Regions from separate parts of the Homo sapiens genome. Here region 2 is linked to region 1. The links come from fine-mapping of genetic effects on gene expression. Tissue or cell type: whole blood. Region 1 holds a variant in brackets; the other region holds the start of a gene. All regions are shown on one strand. Distances are from middle to middle. Region 1 overlaps LOC107984878 (a long non-coding RNA gene). Region 2 holds the start of NUDT7 (nudix hydrolase 7).

Region 1 (12,248 bases):
GGCTGTATAATAGCCCCCCAAAACACCCACATTCTAACCCCTAGAACCTGTGAATGTTTCCTTAAAAGGAACATTGCAGATGTGATTAAGTTAAGGATCTTCAGATAGGAAGATTATCTTGGAATATGCAGGTGGGCCCTCAGTGTAATTACAACTGTCCTTTTAATGGATGGTAAGAGGAGGGACCACGTGGCAGTGTGAATACTGAAGCAAGGTGCTATACTGCTGGCTTGGAGATGGGGAAAGGAGGCATGAGCCAAGAAATGAAGTGCTAGAAGCTGGAAGGCAGAGGAACAAATTCTCCCCCAGAGCCTCCGGAGGGAGCACGGTCCTGCGAACACTTTGGGTTCAGCCCAAGAAACTGATTTCAGATTTCTGGCTGCCAGAAGTTCAAGAGAATACATTTGTATTGTTTTAAGCTGCTAAGTTTGCAGAAATCTGTTACAGCAGCAATAGGAGCCTAATACATCAGATAACAGATATAATAGGACAGGAATGACAGATGGTAATTATAGAGGAAGTGTGAAATAGAGCAGTGCTTCTCGAACTTCAGTATGCACAGGAATCACTGGGGATCTGGTGAAAGTCAGATGCTGAGTCACTAGGTCCAGGGAAGAATCTGAAGCTCCACATTTCCTTGCAAGCTCCCGGGTGAGGACGTTGCTACTTGTCCAGGGACATCACTTTGAGTAGCAATAAAATAGCAATGGCCAAATGTAGATGAGACAGATCAAAACAAAGAGTTTTGGAGAGGCAGCTGTGATTCTTGATATAATTTCTGTTTTTTTTTTTTTTTAATTTGTACACACTTGTTTTGTGGCCTAAGATATGGTCTATTCTAGAGAATGTTCCATGTACAGGTGAAAAGAACGTGTATTCTGCAGCATTTGAGTAAAATGTTCTGTAAATATCAGTTAGGCCTACTAGATGGAGTGTGTAGTTTAACTCTACTGTTTTCTTTGTTGATTTTCAGTGTGCACAGAGTTTTAAGGACACAAATCAGATGGGCATGAGTGAAGTGCCCAGGATGGACCTATGTTCATCCCACCAATGATTCAGTGCCCCTCCTGGTCAGGTGTCCAGAGGCCTCACACTTTTATTATGTCCATTATTCCCAGCAACCCTGCAGAGTAGGCATCCTAATGCTTGTTTGACAGATAAGGACATGGAGGCCTAGAGGATTAATGGCTTTGGCCACACCCACATGGGACTAGAATTGTGTAACTCCAACATATGTGGGTTACTTTTTTTTTTTTTTTTAACTTTACTACCTTTTCGAAATCATGGATAATATACATGTGCTATGGGGCTTTGCAGAAAGATTAGTGATCCCAGCTAAATGGAGATTTTCATCCTCCAATGAAACATGCTCATATTACCAGGGACAGAAATTGGACTTGCTAAACCTAGGCTGAAAAGGAACCAGAGTTTTTATCAGGGCATCTTCTTAGGGAAAGTGACAGCCCAAACGCTCAGAAGGCAGAGTGAGCCCTGCGCAGACAAGAGGGCTGAGAGGGTGGAGAAGGAAGGGCCTTGCCTCCCTGTTGGTGGTAGAGAGGATGTAGAGGAAGGTGCATGAGTATGAATCAGCCCTGTAAGAGACCCCACAGGGTCAGATCAGAGAAGCTAAGGGCAGTCAGCAAATCCAAGGAGCAAGGAAAAGGCAAAAATAGGAGGAGAAATTAAGACTAGTTCCAGATCCAGGACTAGATCCAAAACCAGAGACTAGATCCAATGCCAGGACTAGATCCAAATCCAGGACTGGATCCAGAACGGGGACTAGATCCAGAATGGGGACTAGATCCAGATCCAGAGACTAGATTTGGATCCAGAGACTAGATCCAGACCAGGACTAGATCCAGAACCAGGACTAGGTCCAGATCCAGCACTAGATTCAGAACCAGGACTAGACTGAGAACCAGGACTAGATCGAAATCCAGGACTAGATCTAGATCCAGAGACTAGATCCAGAACCAGGACTAGATCCAGAGCCAGGACTAGATCTAGAAGCAAGACTAGATCCAGATCCAGAGACTAGATCCAGAACTAGGACTAGATTCAGATCCAGAGACTAGCTCCAAATCCAGGACTAGATCTAGATCCAGAGACTAGATACAGATCTATAACTACAGAGGGACAGCAATGGTATCAAGAGCCAAACATCAGCCACAAAGGGAGCCACATCCTTTATCCATCGCCAGCTATGCAGCCTTGGCAGGTCTCTTCTTCTGCTGCCTGAGAATGGTTACACTGATGCTGAGTGGCGGTGAGGAATGGAACGAATCTACACAAGGCTTCGGTCATTCTATGCTGTGATGAAAGTGACCAATTCTCTTAGAATCACAGTGTCTGCTATTGTTCTTTATGAGTTAGTGGACTTATGGTCCCAGATGGAACAAAGTGACCTGACATACGAGTTTGCCACAGAGTTCCTGCAGCTTCTGAATGAACAAGCCCTATATTAGCAAGCTTTTTCTTGGTATTGTTTGGGTTATAGTTTTATGGCATAGAAGATAAAGAGAAATCTTTGCATTTTTTCTAAATTATTGAAGATCATCAGAGGTTAGGAGGAGAAAGGAAAAGTAAACTTTGGGTAGCAAGTTTTAATCTTTTTTTTTTTTTTTTTTTTTTTGAGACACAGTCTCGCTCTGTTGCCCAGGCTGGAGTGCAGTGGTGCGGTCTCGGGTCACTGCAACCTCCAACTCCTGGGTTCTTGCCATTCTCCTGCCTCAGCCTCCCGGGTAGCTGGGACTACAGGCACCTGCCACCACGCCCGGCTAATTTTTTGTATTTTTAGTAGAGATGGGGTTTCACCATGTTAGCCAGGATGGTCTCGATCTCCTGACCTTGTGATCTGCCCGCATTGGCCACCCAAAGTGCTGGGATTACAGGCGTGAGCCACCGCGCCCAGCTGGAGGATTGTTTTTATGGAAGTGCTGGTAGGGGTGGGATGCATTCTTTCCTTTGGACTTTAAACTTGTGAACAGAATTCTATAATCCAGGTGTTTTGGGTATTGTTTCTAAAAATACTTTGGCCCCTTAATGATTTAATTTTTATTGATCAACTTTAGGGTAATGGAGGATAACCCAATAAATTAATAACATATTGCATGGTTCATTTCTCATTAGCTCATCCAAGATCAACTGCAGAGGAGGACGAGGGAAATTTTATATGGGAACAATTATCTGAAAAATGTGAGTATCTCAAGATAATCTGATTGCTTAGTTTTAGCTAACCCTGAGGTCTAAATACTTACAGCCAAGAGAATTTATCTGATGAGTTTAGTCCAAGAAACACAACTTTATTTTCCCACTACTAGCTGAATATAAGTGTCAATTTAAGAGTGCTACATGCCCTACAAACATCGATCGCCTCATGTTCCAAATGAAAAAGTTCATTAGTGAGCTTCTCTCCTGATGTGTTATTATTAACTGGAAGCTAAAATTAATGAATTTTGTCGGATTGCCTCAAGTAGTGATAGGGAATGATAGAATTCTTCAGCAGTCGATTTCTATTCTATCATCTGCTTAGTTTTGTTGTTGTTGTTGTTTTCTTTTCTTTTCTTTTCTTTTTTTTTTTTTTGAGGAGTCTTGCTCTGTTGCCCAGGCTCTGGAGTGCAATGGTGCAATCTCGGCTCACTGCAAGCTCTGACTCCAGGGTTCACGCCATTCTCCTGTCTCAGCCTCCCGAGTAGCTGGGACTACCGGTGCCTGCCACCACGCCTGGCTAATTTTTTGTATTTTTAGTAGAGACAGGGTTTCGCCGTGTTAGCCAGGATTGTCTGGATCTCCTGACCTTGTGATCCACCCGCCTCGGCCTCCCAAAGTGCTGGGATTACAGGCATGAGCCACGCGCCCGGCCTTTTTTTTTTTTTTTAAATAAATGTCACTCATAGGGGTCTTCTGAACTTAGTATGGCCTGGAAATCTCAGGGCACAATGGATAAATTGCATTATATTTCTCCACTGCTGTAAATGTATTTGATATTGGGGTTCCTTTGGTTGCAAGAGACAGAGATCCAGTTCAGACATGCTTAACAAATCATGTTATCCACACACATAACTTGGAAATTCACTGATGATCAATAGCCAAAGGCAATATGAAAACATGCTGTATAGATGAAAAACACAGCTACCACCAAGCCCTTAACACATCTGATTTCTCTTCTTTTGGTCTTTCATGGGAAATGTAACATTAGTGGGGCTGGAATATAGGTTCTGTAATAGCAATCCTCACTTAAGTAGCCTTGTGTTCTTGGGCAAGCATTGAAATTCACCAAATCTTTCACTGTACAACAGAGCTTGCCATTCTAGTCTGGCACATAGGATTATAAGGACAAGTAAACAAGAAGCCAAGTGACAGAACTCTATGAATATATGTAATCGTCCATTTCATTTGTTCTTTGGGTCCTTTTAGACCCAACTGTTTCTAGTAGAAGTGGGTGTGGAAGAGGAAGCCATGGAGAAATAGTTGCCTACTCAATGTGGGCAGAGAATGAAGGTTTTCAAAATCGACAAGTCCCATGAAACGACGCACTCTTAGTGTTGTACTGAAAATCTGCAGAATGAGAGACACATGTCTTCTGAATATGATGGCTCAGACTATTTCTTATTTATAATATTTTCCCAAATAATTTCTCATATTTTTCTGTAATTTAAATCCATATTTTCAGGTCAGGATGCTTGTGATCGTTTAGTGGACTTGAAATTTTGCACAATGATGAACGATTTTTTTCCTGTCTTGATAAGCAAGTCATAGGGGATGGTCTGGGGAGATACATCAAAATTGTTTAATACAAGCACGTGTTTAGAACCTCAGAGCCCTACAGAGGCTTCCTACGTTTATCTGTATGAAGATCTCTGTTTTCTCCCCTGAGGCTGCACATAGGAACTGCTAAAGCAGTACAAGAAATACCAGCCACCGCAGTCTATCTTATATAATGATTTCCCTTTCAGTCTCAGGTTCTTCTGCCCAGACTCAGCTTGTTATCCCAGGCTTTATTCCTTTCAGGTTGATTTTACCCAAGGGGACTTGTGCTTCTGGCATCTTGTTTATAGCGGGATACCCTACAAAGCTCCAACATGCCTGCGCATGGCTGGACTCCAATGCTGGCAAGTTGCAATGTTCTTCCTGGTACATGGCTCAGCCCCCATGTGAATCGGTTAAAGAAAATAGATACCCAAGAGAGGGAGCAGCCACAGCCTCACATATCTTCCTTACATTTAGAAAACTTTCTCAAACTTCTCAGAGTGTTTTATATGTGGCCATTTTTTACTGCAGGTGTGAATATAGTAAACTGGGGTTAGAGGGGTGATGTTATGGCGCACGCAAGCAATGGACTTGGAGGGAGAACGAAAGGGAAGGAAGATGGTCTCGCAGCCATGAATATTCTACTAAAGTGTGGCCTGGGCAGCTAAACTGATGTACTCCAAAGATGTGCCAACGATGGCCTCCCTCTGATCACCTTAGGTGAATTCAGTCCCTGAAAATTCTAGTTTCAGAATTTGAATTTTTGCTTTCTATCTTTTTTAATTTAGGGATTAGGTTTTTTGTTTTGAGGGGATTTTGTGTTTTTAAGTTAAAAAAAAAAACTCCTCATACTCAGACATTCCAAGTCCTTATATTTTATATCCTTTCAAAACTTTGTTTTTAAAATTACTTTTATGGATTATTAAAGCAGTGTGTACACATTGTAGAAAAATTAGGAAAAAAGCCCCCCAAAAATAAAAACTACCAAAAAACAAAGAATGTAAGTGATAATTATAATCCCAACCTCCTCCCTGAGAAGACAATTTTTAACACCTCTATGAATATCCTTACAAATAGAGAAGTATGGATAAAACTGACAAAAATGAAATCATATATATCTTTCTATAATTTACCATAATTTATTTAAACCATTTACAACTTGTTTGGTGTCTAGGTTGCCTTCAATTTTTCCTAATGTATACAAATATAAAGCTGGACTAATTAGCTGAGAATAAATTAGACAATCTTTAAAATAGAAAAAAATGAATAATTCTAAAACATAATTAAATATGCATGAATAGTACTAAAATTAGCCCATGATGAAACAAATCATCAGTATTAAAAAATAATACAAATTAAAGTAGCAGTGCTTGGGAATTTTATTTTTACCTAATCATTACTGTGATTTCATTCTTGTATTGACCTACTTCTTGGCAATAAAATGACCTTGACCATCTAGTTTTCAGCCAAATTAATTCATTCATCCACTCAGTACTTATTTATTGAATTCCTAATGGAAAATAAAATATAATTGAAAGTCCCCACACTCACAGAGCTTGTGTTCTAGTGTGAGAGATAGGAAAAAAAACCAAGTATGTACCCAAAAAATACCAGATATGGAAGTAAAATATGGGTGCATGAGAGAGAATGACATCAGCGTTAGACTCTTCCAGGAAACGACAGGTGTAGTGAGAACTGATGATAAAACAAGTGCCATCCATGCAAAAACCAGGGTGAAGACAATTGCTGGGAGAGGGGCATCTAGTGCAAGAGCACTATGGTGGGGGCAAGCATAGCGTTTCCAACAGGAGAAAGAAGCACAAGCTGAAGGAAGTTCAGTGGCCAAGATCAAGAAGGGTCAGAAGTAGGCGGAGTCCACAATGTGCCAGTTTTGTCAACCAAAGACAAAGGTTGAACTTTATTACAGGCACAGGTGGGTAAGCGCACTAACCCACGCCTGCAATCCCAGCACTTTGGGAGCCAGATGAGAGAGGATCATTTGAGGGCAGCCTGGGCAACATAGCAAGACCTTGTCTCTACCAGAAATGAAAAATAAAGAAAGAAAAAAATAAAGTCAGTCACAGTTGGACGACACTAGAAGGTTTTAGGCCAAGAAACGGCATGACTTTATTCATGACTTCAAAAGATCACTCTGGATGTTGGGTGAAGAAGGGCATATAAGGAGCAAGAATAGGTGCAGGGGAGGTAAGGGGTTGAGGGGGATGATGAGTCTGGGACCAGGTGCTACAGGTGGAAAGGGGGACAGGATGCATTTAGGGTGTGAATCAGAAGCAGAATGAACAAACTTGCTGATGAAGTGCAGGGAGCAAAGAGGGAGAAAAACAAACTGAAGCATAACGCCTCTGGGACTACTAAGAAGAATTATTTTGTCTGGTGAGTGTTTTTGGACAAATAGCATA[A/G]CATGTTTGGGCACCTATTATAATATAAAGCATAGTACAAAAATTGTTTCTGATAATAATAATTGTACTTTCCACTTATTAAGTACATGCTATGTACTTAATGCTGATCTCTTTTTTTCTTATTGAACATAGAGGGGATAAAAATATGTACGTTGAATTAAATACTATTCCTCTCATCTCACTTATTAAATTACCAAATAACCCATGTTTTCCATATGGCCTTTGCCCGTTTGAGGATTGCATTGCCAAGGAAACAGATTGTTAAGCACAGGCTCTGCAGGTAAATCCTATTAAATATGTCATAATTCAAACAAAATGCACAAAGCCAACTAGGCTTGGGTTTGGAATATTAGCTTCCAAATGTCCCCCTCCTAAGGCCTAACTATATACTTAATAAGGTTCAACGTTTAGATGCCTGTCTAATTCTACCCAGAGCCCTGGACTTGTACATTCCTGACCCAAATCCCTGATCTGAATGTCAGAATTTTTAATTAACCTCCCCAAATGGCATTTTCACATAATAAACTCTATGCATGCTGCTAGCTTCGAACAGTAGACAAAAAGTGATCCTTTTCTTTTCCTCAGTCAGATTTTTCCTTTGTAAAACATTAAGCAGAATGGCTTCATTACCTGGATATGCTTAAATGAGGCTGGGGAAAACCCAGAATTGGAGATTTCAAAAGGAAAAGGAATTAGAGATTAACTAGTTCCAATCCGCTTTATACGTAAGGAACCTGAGGTTCAGCAAGATTGTGATTTCTGTCTGCAAGGTTACAGAGCATATTTATGGACAGTACTAGGGGCAATGCCTACCTCCCCTGGCTGGTGATGTCTTCCTTTGTCTCAGGGTTCTTCCATTCACCACCCTCCTCCTAAAAGTCATCCTTGTTGTTCCTTCAGTATAAATTCTTCATTTCCTCCTCCCTCACCTACGTCCTTTGCTCCCCAGTCGTCTCTTCTGGCCCTCATGGCCTTAGCTCTACCTTTCTTCTGCTCATTTCCTAAATGCAGCTTATTCCTCCAAGTCCCACTCCTGATCTTATCATTCACCCCCCTCACTGCAACTCAGGCTCAGGCTCATCAAGCTCGTTACTGGATCAATGAATTCACCCACCAAATGTGTTTTGCACAGCATGTTTTTTTCAATTCAGTGCCCATGGCTTTTGCTAGAAGGCTGTCCTCATTTGACCCTTGTCATTTCATTAAAAAATATCCAGTGGAGTGAGAAAAAAGTGTAATTGAAACCAATGTACCACAAATAAACTCTTCTTATTTAGGAAAATTCACTGCTGAGCTTATTGAATGTGGAAGGTGGGTCCTAGTGGGCATGAGATGCATGGAGCCAAATAGACACCATCCTCTGAAAAGGAAATGAATGTCATTTTGGTGGTGGGAGCAAAGAGAAAAGCAAAAAGGAAGAACAAGCATGTGGAGGAATACAGCATCAGCCTGATACCCAACTTGGTAGAATGGACAGGACTTTTAAAGAACAAGAAAAACATAATATTCAAATTTAAGTTTGGCTCTCTTATGTTGCAATCAAAGTTTACCTGGCTGATATCCCTGTGTCTCCAATTAAAGCCACTCAATGATTTACATACAAGTTACTTTAGGAAAAACAAGGAGAAGCAGTCTCTGTCCTGGATTTGGGTTGGCACTAAGGAAAAAGACCTCAAGATGCAGAATACAGAACTAACATTCACTGAAGCTGGAAATTGAACCTAAGGTGATTAGAAGAAAGGTACTCTCTGAAGGATTTGAATAAATCTTGGGGAGAATATCGAGCTTTCCACTGGAATTACAATGGGGATTTAAGGCAAGTTTTTGTAGATATGAAGGGGCATGGGTCCTAAATATATGGCTAGCATTGAGGCTAGAAGGGTAAAGAAGAGCTAAGTCTGCTCCTCTGGTAGTTCATAGTACATCAAGACAGCTAGGTATGGAAATAACTAAGTTACAAGGCAAAAACTGGTTAAAGATAGGAGCCACTCACTCATGTCCACTCTGGTAGAGCACTTTATATACCTTATACAGTAAATGCAGGAGGGGGTGATTTACAACAATGCTAGACCACCTTAGGTTGACCTTTGTCAAGCAGTCTGTTGGGAAGAGACTGAATTTTCCTTAGCCCACTGAATTAGCTATTTGAGTAGAAATAGCTACTTCTCATTTAGTTGTACTCTTTTATTTAACAAATATCCATTGAGCACCTACTCTTTACCCAGTGTTGTGCCAAGTGCTAAGAGTACTCTTGTGTATGGACCAAAATTGAGACATGACTGTGCCATTATGGAAGTTGAAGTCCAGAGAATGAGGGGACATCAATCAAAGAATCAAGGGGATATCATATTGTAACTATGACAGGAGTTATGAAGTAGAGGTACATGGCACCAAGAGAGCTTATAACAAGGAGAACTAACCTAGCTAAGGTGTCAGAGAAGGCATCCTTCAACAATAAGTATGAGGTAACCAGGCAAAGGGAAATGATTGAGGGATCAGCTTGTGCAAGAGTTCTGAGGCACCCATGGACTGAAACTGAGCCTCTACAGGCCAGTGCTGTAGGAGTGGATGAGCAGGGAGGGGGCTCATGGTACTACACATAACCAGATAGGTAGACAGGAGCCAGGACACGGCCTTGTAAGAGCCATCCATCTTTTTCATAAAAAACAATGGGAAGCCATTTGAGTGCCTCAAGAAAATATGATGATATTTATATTGAAAAATAACTCTGGCTATAGAAGAGAGATGGTGCAGGGTAATAGTTACCAGATAGATGCAAAAGTTTTCAGACGTTTATGACAGCTTTAACTAAGTTGATGTCGGTAGAGATGAGAAGAACTAGATTTGATAGATATTCAGAAGATAAATTCAGTACGATTTGGCGACGGATTAGATATAGGAGTGTCTTAATTTGGTTTACCTAGAAACCTAAAGACAAGATTCAAGTTATTTATTTGGAATCTACAGGGCACATTGTTATGGGAGTGGAGAAATGAGACAAAGAAGGGAAGGCAGCCAATGAAAAGAAGTGTGAAACTTGCCACCACAGCGGGCACCCAGAGTTTAGTTCAGTTTGGGAGCAAGTACAGAACACCTGTCTCAGAATTATCCCACCCAAGGGGCAAAGAACCTGAGCTACTGATATGCAAAATCCCATCAGTCATTGGTTGAGGGTTAATGTAGGGGACATTAATTCCCTGTCACTTCCAGCTGGCCTGCTGTGGCTTTGGAAAAAGCCTGCAGGAACACAGATGCAAATGTTGGCTGTTGGAAGTGATCTGGAGCTCACTGCAATGGTAGGGTCCTAAGGATGTGGGTAGGACACAGACTGTATCTGTACATGGGGTGATCATTACTTCTCCAGTGTCCTAGTGTCCTGGCCACACATGAGTCATCTAGAGCCACTCTGTCCAGTAGAAATATACTGTAAGCCATGTATGTAAATTTAAATTTTCTAGTAGCCACATTCAAAAAAGTACTAAGAAACAGGATAAATTAATTTTCACCCTATATTTAACCCAACATCTCTAAAACATTATCATTTCACCATGTAGCCAATAGTAAGTCTTTGAAATCCAGTGTGTATTTGACTCCTACAGCATCTCAATTTGGACTAGCCACATTACAGGTGCTCTGTAGCCAGGGGTGTCTTGTGACAGCTTCACAGTTATCTCATGGGCTAGCCCAGACCCAAAGGCTTCTCCAGGAATGTTGATTCAGACTTTGATACATTTGCTTTAGCTTCTGTTTACTGGACCAACAAAGAAGAGGTGCAAAGGACACATATGTTATCAAAGACATCAGTGAGTTGACTTGGGTCTCCATTGTCCCTCTTTGTTCCTTATAGAACCTAAAGGCAGTCTATAGAGGAGTCATGGGGGCAACTGTGGTGGGGGAGAGGTGAGAAGAGCCAAGCAAGCAGTAATCTGTCCCCCTCACATACTTAACTGTCAGAGCAGTTTTACTTCTATATGTGGCAGGCAGGCCAGGCATGGCGGCTTATGCTTGTAATACTAGCACTTTGGAAGGCTCAGGTGGGAGGATTGCTTGGAGCCAGGAGTTTGAGACCAGCCTTTGCAACATAGCAGGACCTTGTTTCTATTTATAAAATAAAATATAATAAACATGATGTGGCAGACAATGAGTTTCCCATCATCCTCTTCCTTGTTAGCCGGGTCTGCCTCTCACAGTGGAGGAGAAAATGTCAGATGCCTATTTTCCTAATTTTTCTTGCAATTAGCATATGGGCTTAATCTGTCCAATGGGTCATATAGCTAGTGATGAGAGGAGACTGGGTTTTCTGTCTTCAGTCTTTCCTACCATACCATATTGCACTTCCAGAAGACTCTACATGTGGATAGGTCCATTCTAAGTTAAGAAAGAATAGAACCTAAGGTCCCCATAGTGTAAAAGGGTGTGAGAAAAGAGAAAAGAGAAGGATATAAAGACGTGTGTTTGTGATATGTTAGGACATTTTCCAGTGAAAGTTATAGAACTCTTTCTAAGCTTGCTCAAGCACGTTAGGGAATTTAACTACGAAGGGTGGGAGCATTTCATGGAAACCATGGAAACATCCGGGTCTCAAGAACAAACATCCAGGGATTCTAATGCCTTCACAACACACGACTGACTTTCATTGCTCTTCCATTCTGGTCATTGACTTTGTTCTCCTCTCTTGTTGCAGACAAGCTTTCTCTGCTTCCCAGGGCAAATGGTGGAACACAAACACCCACATATGCTCTCTTCCGGAGGGCAGGCAGACAGACTCTGCTGTTGCTTGGTACTAATCCCAAGGGAATTACTGAGGGACTAAATCTGATTAACTGAGTTTATGCTGGGAGGTCAGCAATGTCCTGTTTCCATGGTAATCCCAAGACAGAGGGCAGAGCTATTTCTCAAAATGAAGAGATGTTTCAGAAGGGGGCTGTGTAGTTTCCTAGGGCTGTCCTAACAATTTGCCACAAACTTGGTAGCTTAAAACAACCGAAATTTGTTATCTCACGGTTCTGAAGGCCAGAAATCTGAAATCAAGGCGTTGGCAGCATCACCCTCCCTCCAAAGGCTGTGGGGAGGACCCTT
Region 2 (12,248 bases), 31 kb after region 1:
TGACCTCAGGTGATCCCCACACCTTGGCCTCTCAAAATGCTGGGATTACAGGTGTGAGCCATGCCTGGCCTAAATTTTTTTTTAAAGAAAATATGCTATTTTGAAGAAAATATGTATGATGACATGTTACTATATGATGTATATGGTGATATGTTACTATGTGAGGTAATATGTATAGTAATATGTTACTATGTGAGGTATTGTGTGTGGTGATATGTTACTATGTGAAGTAGTATGTTACTATGATGTGAGGTAGTAAATTAATTAGCTAGATTTAGTCATTCCACAGTGAATATATACTTCAAAGCATCATATTGTACAGGATAAATCTCTACAAGTTAAATCTATTTAAATCTAAAAAGATAAATCTATTTAATTTTGTTTTTAAAAAAGAAAATATTACGCTGTTTTGAAGAAAACAGGCACATTTCTAAAACTGACTAATCAAAAACTATTAGCACTGCAAAGGGCTCTAAGCACAAAAGCGGTCAGTTATTTTTTTGATAAATAGTATACATTTCTTATTCAATAAAACCTTCTGAAATGCTACTCAGAGGCCAAGTAAAGCTGCAGCCTAATTTCCTAAGACTTCAATCTTTGCTTTGTTCCTGAATTTTCTCTTGCCTACTTCCAGTCCCAGAGAATGGGGTGCAGGGAGGAGGGTGGAGGAGGGTAGAAGAGGGGACAGAGGAGGGATGCGAGGTCAAGGGTGTGGGGGAGAAGAGCAGGACCGATAATGCAGAGCAGCTAATTCCTGAAAACTATAAAGTGGGTGGCTTTGAAGGCCTGAAGGGCTGTGCCCAGGTGTGCAATGGAGAAAGGGGTTTGCCAGCTCTTTGCTGGGCACCAGGGATCTAGGGTTCTGAGAGGAGTCCCTTATCCAAGGTGGACCCGGACAAGGAGATAACGAAAACATAGGTAGCATCCAACAGCATGCAGCACTATGGCATGCCAGCAGCCGTGCTGGGCGTTTTACAGATCTCTTTCAGGCTCAGAACAACCTTGCACATGAGGCGCTGTTTTCAGGCCCATTTTAGGGATGAGAAAACCGAGGTGATTAAGAGATTTACGAACTTTGCAGGCTGGGCGTGGTGGCACACGCTTGTCATCTCAGCACTTTGGGAGGCCAAGATGGGCAGATCACCTGAGATCAGGAGGTCAAGATCAGCCTGGCCAACCAACATGGTGAAACTCCCTCTCTACTAAAAATACAAAAATTAGCCAGGCGTGGTGGCGTGCACCTGTAATCCCAGCTAATTGGGAGGCTGAGGTGGGAGAATTGCTTGAACCCAAGAGGCGGAGGTTGCAGTGAGCTGAGATCACGCCACTGCACTCCAGCCTGGGCGACAGAGCGAGAATCCTTCTGAAAAAAAAGAAAAACTTGTTCGAGGTTCCAGAGCTAGTGGGAGATTGCACATTTGAGAAGGGTTAACCCACTTCTTGCCTTGCTTTCCCCATCCACTGGGGGGAAATCTCCTACCAGCGCCCTGCTTGTGTGAGGGGCAGAGCTCCAGTAGAGCTCCAGAGGGAATTTCTCACCCCTACAGCCAGATAGTGTTTACAATCAGATTGAATTAAATTTAAATAGTTTTTAAAAAGTGACCTTAATAATCAACAGGCAAAAGTGGCTCTGGGTGAAACAAAAGAAACTAGAGACCCCGTTGGTTGAGTTTGTAGTATTGTCTAGATTTCCTATATTATTGTTTGTTAGACAATTCTCTTTTATTTATTTATTTATTTTTATTTATTTATTCATTATTGAGATGGAGTCTTGCTCTGTTGCCCAGGCTGGAGTGCAGTGGCACGATCTCGGCTCAATGCAACCTCCACCTCCCAGGTTCAAGTGATTCTCCCTGCCTCAGCCTCCCCAGTAGCTGGGATTACAGGCACCCACCACCACGCCTGGCTAATTTTTTGTATTTTTAGTAGAGACAGGGTTTCGCCATGTTGGCCAGACTGGTCTCGAACTCCTGACCTCAGGTGATCCGCCCACCTCAGCCTCCCAAAGTGCTGGGATTACAGGCGTGAGCCACCGCACACGGCCATATCTGATAATTTTAAAAAATATATGTAAGTGCTTCTCCTGTGCTTATTGGCAGAGGTGGGAACAGACACTGGTCCCCTGGTTTCCATTTAAGTATTTCCCCCTGGAACCTGGATTTCTATCATGTCCTGAGTTCACGGCATTTCTGCCTGGCTCAGACCGAACACAATCCACACAAGTCTACTTCCACGTCCACAAAACTCCAGCTGATTCCTTGGCATTTTTTTTTTAAACAAAATACTTTTCATTATTCTGCTTAAAAAGCCTGTTAATATGGCTTATTTTCTTTTTGTACTTGGATAAGCTTAAAATGACTGCTTCACCAGCTTTTCCTTGGAAGTTCCCCACAGCAAGGGAAACTGACTGTGCTCACGGGTGTGGGGGTGGTAGAGTTTCGATATTTGTCCTTGCCCAAATCTCATGTTGAACTGGAGTCCCCAGTGTTGGAGGTGGGGTCTGGTTGGAGGTGACTGGATCACAGGGGCAGATTTCTCACGCATGGTTTAGCACCATCATCTTGGCACTGTCCCCATGATAGTGAGTGAGTTCTCATGAGATCCGGGGCCATTTAAAAGTGTGTGGTATTTCCCTGCTCTCTCTCTTGCTCCTGCTCCCCCTCTGCCATGATGGTACACTCCCTGAGGCCTTTCCAGAAACTGAGCAGATGCCTGTGTCATGCTTCCTGTACAGCCTGCAGAACCATGACTCAATGAAACCTCTTTTCTTTATAAATTACCCAGACTCAGATATTTCTTTTTCTTTCTTTCTTTCTTTTTTTGAGATGGAGTCTCGCTGTTCCTCAGGCTGGAGCGCAGTGGCACAATCTCGGCTCACTGCAACCTCCGCCTCCTGGTTTCAAGTGTTTCTCCTGCCTCAGCCTCCTGAGTAGCTGGGATTACAGGTGTGTGCCACCATGCCTGGCTAATTCTTTTGTATTTTTAGTAGAGATGGGGTTTCACTATGTTGGTCAGGCTTGTCTCGAACTGCTGACCTCGTGATCCTCCCACCTTGGCCTCTCAAAGTGCTGGGATTACATGCTTGAGCCACCATACCCAGCCTCAGGTATTTCGTTATAGCAATGCAAGAATGGACCAATACAAGGGGTGAGCCAGAAACTCCATTCCCAGCCCATTATTTCTGTAAAGTGACATCATTTATCTTAAAACTTCAGGTCATGTCTGACAGGTCACTTGACACTAACGATGACAGCTAAAACTTACTGAATTCTTCCTTGCCAAGTACCTGGGTTATATAGGTGCTTTACATTTGTTACCCTGTGAAATGTTCATAGCAGCTGTATGAAGCAGTTACTAATATTTTGTCCTCATTTTACAAGTGAAAAGACTGAAGTACAGAGAGGGCAAGTAACGAGGCCAAAGTCACAGCTGGCAAGGAGAGAGCCTGGATTCAACGTGGACAGCTAGCTTTAGAGCCTAGGCCGTTAACTTCTATGCTCTAGTATTTTCACATTATACTGGGGGTGGGATAGTCTAAAACAGTGGCCCTTGGTGGGGGGCAATTTGGCACCCCCAATCCTGCCAGGATAGTAGGCAATTCTGAAGACATTTGTGGTGTGTGTGCTACTGGCATACTGGACAAAGGGACAAAGGTGTGTGTGAGCTTGTGTTTGTGTGTGCTACTGGCATCTGGTGGGTAGAGGCCAAGGATGATGGTAAACACACCACATTATACAGGACAGCCTCCACACCAAAGAATTATTCAGCCCCAAATGCCAATAGCACCAAGGTTAGGTAACCCTAGTGTGAAAGCGTTTTAAACTGCTTGCTAGCTAAATTCCTTCATTTTCTTGTTAAACCTTCTCCAAGAAACACCATGTTATCCTGTGGCTTGTGGTTGTATGCCTCTGACATCACAATTTTGAAAGCCCTTTTGAGAATTTTGGCATCAAAGTGTGTGCAAGTGACAAAATCTCGTGAGGTCTTCTGATGTCCTGAGGTTTAAGGGCAGGAAATTTTTTGTCCACCTACCTTCTCTGACCGGACGGTGAACAACAAATGGAGTTTTCCTTCTTTAGCCACCAATGGCAAAAGGACGGAGTATTTGTTATATGGCAAGTGAGAATATTTGCCTCCAATATCATACTTTCTTAAGCGGGCCTTAGCATCATCTAGCAAACTGTTTCTAAAATAAAAACAAACCAGACAGACATTTTAGCAAGCAGAGTTATGGTAAAAAGCTTATAGTCCTGCCTCTGTTTCTGCTTTGTTGTGTATTTAGGAGTTTGCCATTTCTGACTCTCTGTGTATTTTTCAATAACACGACAGAAATGATACTATCTAAATTGCGTGGTTGTTCGCAAGATGAAAATGACAAAAAAACCTTCTAAGCACACAGTTTAGTACACAGGTTCTCTTTGAAACATAAAGTATGGTAAAATGTTTTTTCAATAATGCAACAGTTGAATTTTGAAACCCATAATTATATTCAGAGAAGACAGGTTTGATGAAAAAGTCATTGTTAAGGTTAGAAGGTTAGAAGACTACCTTCTGTTAAGCTGGCCCTTATGTTCTCAAACTCTTATGTCTTCAACTGCTTATAATAGTGGTTCCCAAGCTTTAGCAGCAACAGAATCACCTGGAGCGCTGGCTGTCACATAGACTGCGAGGTTCAGTCCCAGACTGTGACTCAGTAACTCTGGTGTAGGGCCTGAGAATTAGCATTTGTATCAAACTCCCTCATGACAGCGTTACTGACGCTGTGGACAGGGGAACACATTCTGAGAACAATTTCCCAATAATATGCAAGCATTTGGATTTAAAACCGCAAATGGTGCCCTTCCTATGTGGACTTGTTTTGGTCCTTTTGACAGGTGTGTTCTACTGCTAGTTTGTATAGTGGGTTGAACAGTATCCCCTCACCCCTGAAATTCATGTCTACCCCAAACTTCAGAGTGTGACTTTATTCAGAAATAGGATCTTTTCAGATGTAATTAAAGTGAGCTCTAAATCCAATGACTGTTGTCCTGATAAGAAGCAGAAACGAGCCCAGTGCAGCGGCTCACGCCTGTAATCCCAACACTGGGAGGTTGAGGCGGGAGAATTGCTTGGGCCCAGGAGTTTGAAACCAGCCTGGTCAACATGGTAAGACCCTGTCTCTACAAAAGAAAAAAAAAAAAAGCATAAATTAGCTTAGGCATGGGGCATGCAACTGTATTCCCAGCTACTTGGAAGGCGGAAGTGGGAGGATCACTTGAGCCCCAGAGTTCAAGGCTGCAGTGAGCCATGATTGCACCACTGCACTCCGGCCTGGGTGACAGAGTGAGACCTGACTCAAAAATAAAATAAAATAAAAGAAGAAAAAACATGGAGAGATGCACACAGGGAAGAAGACCATGTGAAGATGGCGGCAGAGGTTGAAGTGATGCTGCTGTGAGCCAAGGAATGCCAGAAACCACCAGAAACTGGAAGAGGCAAGGAAAGGTCACCCCCAGAGCCTTCTAAGGGAGTGAGGCCCTGCCGATACCTTGATTTTGGACTTCCAGGCTTCATAGCCATGAGAGACCATTTCTATTGTTTTAAAACACCCAGTGTGTGGTACTCTGTTATGGCAGCCCTAGAAAAGGAACAGCTGATTTTACTTTTTCTGTGGGAAGGCAGCTTTGCATAGTGGGCAGAATCAGCTATTTAAGATACCCAGAATTGGCTTCAAATGTATATAGGAGGCCTGGTACAGTGGCTCATGCCTGTAATCCCGGCACTTTGGGAGACTGAGGAAGGTGAATCACTTGAAGTCAGGAGTTCGAGACCAGCCTGGCCAACATGGTAAAACCCCACCTCTACTAAACATACAAAAATTAGCCGGGCATCGTGGCACATGCCTGTAATCCCAGCTACTCAGAAGGTTGAGGCAGGAGAATCGCTTGAACCCAGGAGGCAGAGGCTGCAGTGAGCCGAGATTGCCTACTGCACTGTAGCCAGGGCGGCAGAGTGAGACTCTGTCTCAAAAAAAAAAAAAAAAAAGTGTATACAAATGACTTCTCTGAGTTTCATCTTCATTTGTGTCAGGCTTGAGGATATTTAAGAAGATTAAATGATGCAGTTCATATACTGTGGCTGGCACACAGCTGGTGCTCAGGGAATGGTAACCACTGTCATAAATCTCCCCATCATTAGATAAGCAGTTGTTTGCAGGAGGTATTTGCTATTTTTTGCCTCTTTCTAGGTGGCAGGGTGCTCACCAGATGTGGTTGGGTAACGGCAGTGTATTTCAAAGACCAAATGGCCTGAAAAAAATCAGTGAATGCTGGCACAGGGATTGCACAGTGCATCTGGATGCACGCAGGCCAGCCTCCAGAAAAGGAAACTGTGGGCTGGTGGCTTTTAACCACCCGGAAACCACAGAACTGACCAGACAAACCAGCCAAAGTAAAAGGCTGCAAAAACGTTATCTGTCCACTTTAGGGGCTGGCCGCTGGAATAATCACCAAGGTATCAACAGCAGTAGCAGCCACCCCGTTCTGAGCATGGTCTCAATTTTGACGTTTCTCATTTTATCCTCACAACAGCCCGGCAAGTGATCACAGGGTCACCTCCAGGCTCAGAGAGTTTACGAAACTGACAGACCCAAGGTCACAACTGAAAGTAGCCACCGGGGGACTTGAATCCGGGGCTGCCTGCTGCGGGTCTGTGCCACTGTCGGGGGTCCTGGGGTCCAACTCTGGAGACGCGGATTGCAGAACAGCCAAGCCGGCTGGGAAGGGGAGCAGCGTGTATGTAAACCATACTGGCTTAAGCCGGCTCTGTTCCTGGCCAGAGCAGTGCAAAGGTTCGGGGACCCTGCGGGTTGCTGGAGGCGAGTGCTCCCCCATCCGGCGCTCGCAGGTGGACTGGCGGGAGCTGCAAAATCAGTCCCGGCCAAAAGGCCCCGGTGGCCTCCGCTACGATCAAGGCCGGGCCTGACCAAGCTCGGGGTGCCAGGGCCCGGAAAGCCTTTACCTGACTGGCTCCTCGGGAAGACCAAGTCGTGACATTGCCCTGGGGAATGTTTGTTTCCGGGCGGACTCCTCGGAGCTGCTCGGTCGGTCGCGCTTGCGCAGAGCAGCTCTGGGCTTGGGAGCGGCCTAAAGCCAGAGAGAGGGGCGGGGCTTAGAGCACGAGGCGGGGTGGTGTCTGGGGCGGAGACAGGGGGCGGGGCGGTGCGAGATCTGGGATCGGAGGCCGGGATCGGGGCGGGGCGGGGCTTATAGCCAGAGGCGGGACTTGAGGTGGGGAGAGGCGCGGGGCGGGACTTAGGGCCGGGTGTTCCTGGTTGCTCAAAGCAGTTTCTGCCGGGCTCCTTGGGCTTCTATGGAAGCAAGAGGTATAGGAGGAGTTGTGGAATTTAGAGCTGGAAGAGTTAAAAAAAAAAAAAATACAGTGTTGGTGAGGTGATAATATTTTACACTCGCATTCGCTGTTGCTGGAAGGTTAAGGTGATTCATTCAACTTTTTGGAACTGCTGTCAGCACCTGTTCACCGACCACCTGTATGCACTGGGTGCAGATCCCACAGCTAGCGAAAAGACACGTGGAGCTCACAGTCAAATGGTAGAAACATAAATTAATCACACAGGGCTGGATGCAGTGGCATATGCTTGTAATTCCAACACTTTGGGAGGCCAAGAGGGGAGGATCACTTGAATCCAGGAGTTCGAGCCCAGCCTGGGCAACATGGCGAAACCCCATCTCTACAAAATAAAAATAAAAAATTAGCCAGGCGTGGTGGCACACACCTGTGGTCCCAGCTACTCAAGAGGCTGAGGTGGGAGGATCGCTTGAGCCCAGGAGGTCGAAGCTGCAGTGAGCCGTGATAGCACCACTGCACTCCAGCCTGACAGAGGTAGACCGTCTCAAAAATAAGAAGAAGAAGATAAGAAGTTTTTAATGCAAAAAAAAAAAAAAAAAAAAATCACACTGATAAAGCAGTGGCCTTTGGTCCTTCTAGAGCGTGTGAAGGAGAAATGTGACCCAATTAGGAGACAGAAGAGGCTTGGTAGAGGAAATAGAAGTGCAGCTCATCTTGAAAGCAGTAGTTCTCAAAGTGTGGTCCTCAGACCAGCAGAATCAGGATCACTTTGGTCCTGTTAAAAATGTGGACTCTGGGCCAGGCGCTGTGGCTCACACCTGTAATCCCAGCACTTTGGGAGGCCAAGTCGGGTGGATCACCTAAGGTCAGGAGTTTGAGACCAGCTTGGCCAACATGGTGAAACCCCATCTCTACTAAAAAAACAAAAATTAGCCAGTGGCAGGCGCCTGTAATCTCAGCTACTAGGAGGCTGAGGCAGGAGAATCGCTTGAACCTGGGAGGCGGAGTTTGCAGTGGGCCGAGATCGCGCCATTGCACTCCAGCCTGGGCAAAAAAAAGCGAAACTCTGTCTCAAAAACAAAACAAAACAAAACAACAACAACAACAACAACAAAAACCAAGAAAGAAAGAAAGGAAAGAAAGAAAAGAGAAAAGAAAAGAAAAGAAAAAAGACGAAAAGAAAAGAAAAGAAAAGAAAAGGTGGACTTTGGGGCCCATGTCACAACTGCTGAATCAGAAGCCAGGTGTCAGGCCCAGTGATCTGTGCTGTAAGGGGATTCTGATGCTCTGTGCGGGATAGAGGACATAAATGAGGAAAAAGGCAAGGGAGAGTGTTCAAGGAAGAGGGCAAAGTTTGTGCAAAGACAGCAGAAAGGGGCTGGAGAACAGTGTGTGTGAGGGAGCCTGGTGCGAGCTGAGAATCCAGGGGTCAGTGTAGGGCTGACTTCTCCCTTACAGGCACAGGACACACACAGTAATTTTAGGGACCTGTGAAAATGTTTTAATTGTAATTTCTTTTTAAATTAGAAGAAGAAAAGGTATGTAATAAAAGCAATATATAATAATGAATCCAGCTTGGATGATAGTCATTTTATGAATTCAGTCATAAAATATTCACTTTAAAATTATTTTATGGAAGAAGGGGTGCACAAAAACAAAGTAGCTAGGGCCCATGAAAGTAATATTGTGGCTGGCCCTAGGTCAGTGGGGCAGTTTGTGAAATTATTAATGAAATGAAATATTAATGAAATATCGCTGTGATATTTACAACATCCAGTGTTTACACACCGTGACATCAATGAAATATCGATGTGATATTTATAATATCCAGTGTTTACACACTGTGATATTAATAAAATATGGCTGATATTTGTAATATACAATGTTTACACACCGTGATATTAATATAATATCGCTGTGATATTTATAATACCCAGTGTTTCCACACTGTGATATCAATGAAATGTCTCTGTGATATTTGTAATATCAAGTGTTGATGCACCATAACATCAATGAAATATCACAGATATTTACAACATCCAGTGTTTACACACCATGACCTCAATGAAATATCAATATGATATTTATAATATCCAGTGTGTACACACCGTGATATTAATAAAATATGGCTGTGATATTTGTAATATACAGTGTTTACACACCGTGATATTAAGCAAACATCGCTGTGATATTTATAGTATCCAGTGTTTACACATCGTGATATAAATGAAATATCGCTGTGATGTTTATAATATCCAAGGTTTACAAACTGTGATACCGATGAAACATCGCTGTGATATTTATAATACCCGATGTTTACACAAAGTGTTTACACACTATGATGTTAAATATCGTTGTGATTTTTATAATATCCCGTGTGAAATTAATGAAATATCACTGTGACACTCATAATATCCAGTGTTTACACAGTGCTTACACGCTGTTACGTTAATGAAATATCACTGTGATATTCATAATATCCAGTATTTACACACAGTGCTTACGCACTGTGACATTAACGAAATATCGCTGTGATATTCATAATATCCAGTGTTTCCACACAGTGCTTACACACTGCGATATTAATAAAATATCGCTATGATATTCATAATATCCAGTGTTTGCACACAGTGCTTACACACTGTGACATTAATGAAATATCGCTGTGATTTTCATAATATCCATTGTTTACACACAGTGTTTGCACACCGTGATATTAATGAAATGTTGTGATATTTCTAATATCCAGTGTTCACACATAGTGTTTACACGCCATGATATTAATGAAATATCGATGCAATATTTATAATATCTAGTGTTTACACATCATGATATTAAGGAAATATCGGTGTTATATTTATAATATCCAGTGTTTACACACCGTGATACTAATGAAATATCGCTGTGATATTCATAATATCCAGTGTTTACACACAGTGCTTACACACTGTGACATCACTGAAATATTGCTGTGATATTTACGATATCCTGTGTTTACACACTCTGATATTAGTGAAATATCACTGTGATATTGACAACATCCAGAGTTTATACACTGTGATATCAGTGAAATATCGCTGTGATATTTACAATATCCAGTGTTTACACACTGTAATATCAGTGAAATATTGCTGTGATATTTACAGTATCAAGTTTACACACTGTGATACCAGCAAAATATTGCTCTGATATTTACAATATCCTGTGATTACACACTGGTTACACACTGTGATATCGGCGAAATATCACTGTGATATTTACAATTTCCAGTGGTTACACACTGTGATATTGGCAAAACATCGCTGTGATATTTCCAATATCCACTAGTAACACGTTGTGATATTGGTGAAACATCACTGTGATATTTACAATACCCAGTGGTTACACACTGTGATATCAGCGAAATATCGCTGTGATATTTATAATATCCAGTGTTTACACACAGGGCTTACATGCTGTGATATTAAAGAAATATCGCTCTAATATTTATAATATCCGGTGGTTACACACTGTGATACTAGTGAAATATCACCCTGATAATTATCATCTCCAGTGGTTACACACTGTAATACTGGTGAAATATCATTCTGATATGTATAATATCCAGTGTTTACACAAAGTGTTTACACGCTGTGATACTAGTGAAATACCGCTCTGATACTTATAGTATCCAGTGTTTACACACAGTAATACTAGGGAAATTTCGGTCTGATATTTATAGTGTCCACTTTTTACACACTGTGATACAAGGGAAATTTCGCTCTGATATTTGTAATATCTAGTGTTTATACACTGCGACATTAGTAAAATTTCTCTCTGATATTACTAATATCCAGTATTTACATACTGAGACATTAGTGAAATTTCACCCTGATATTTATAATATACAGCGTTTACACACTGTAACATTAGTGAAATATCGCTCTGATATTTATAATATCCAGAGTTTACACACAGGGTTTACACACTGTGACACTAGTGAAATATCAGTCTGATACATATAATTTCCAGTGTTTACACAAAGTGTTTACACACTGTGATACTAGGAAAATTTGACTCTGATATTTATAGTATCCAGGGCTTACACACTGTGATACAAGGAAAATTTTGTTCTGATATTTATAGTATCCAGGGTTTACACACTGTGATACTAGGAAAATTTTGTTCTGATATTTATAGTGTCCAGGGTTTACACACTGTGATACTGGGGAAATTTAGCTCTGATATTTATAAAATCCAGGGTTTACACACTGTGATACCAGGGAATTTTCGGTCTCATATTTAGAGTATCCAGGATTTACACATTGTGATACTAGGGAAATTTTGCACTGATATTTATAGTATCCACGATGTACACACTGTGATTTTAGGGAAATTTCGCTCTGATATTTATTGTATCCAGGGTTTACAAACTGTGATATTAATGAATATTGCTCTGATGAGGATACATGTAATATCCAGGGTTTACACGCTGTGATATTAATGAAATATCGCTCTGATGATAATAATTGTAATATCCAGTGTTTACACACTGTAGTATTCATGAAATATTGCTCTGATGATACTTGTAATATCCAATATTGACACACTATGATATTAACAAAATATCACTCTGATGATACTTGTAATATCCAGTGTTTACACACAGTGATATATATGAAATATCAGTGTGATGATATTTACAATATCCACTGTTTACACACTGTGATATTAATGAAATATTTCTCTGATGGTATTTATAATATTCAGGGTTTACACACAGTGATATTAATGAAATATCTCTCTGATGATGTTTATAATATTCAGTGAGTGAAATATCACTCTGATATTTATAATATCCGGTGTTTACACACTGTGATATTAATGAAATATGGCTCTGATATTTATAATATCCAGTGTTT

Evidence for each region. PIP is the estimated chance that this variant, and not a neighbour inherited with it, causes the effect.
Region 2: it holds the start of NUDT7, and the variant in region 1 is fine-mapped to the expression of NUDT7 in whole blood (TOPMed, PIP above 0.99).

What each region holds. Positions count from the first base shown.
Region 1 is chr16:77,748,334-77,760,581 of GRCh38, reverse strand. LOC107984878 (a long non-coding RNA gene) reads left to right here. Exons shown (of 6, transcript XR_002957866.2): 5 at 3,130-3,195. Among named protein-coding and RNA genes, the nearest start is that of NUDT7, 32 kb to the right of the region's middle. The variant A/G (reference allele first, on the strand shown) is at 7,170.
Region 2 is chr16:77,717,369-77,729,616 of GRCh38, reverse strand. NUDT7 (nudix hydrolase 7) reads right to left here and starts at 7,103. Exons shown (of 4, transcript NM_001105663.3): 1 at 7,000-7,103; 2 at 4,033-4,186. The coding sequence starts at 7,034. RefSeq lists a silencer at 7,128-7,257 and an enhancer at 6,971-7,265.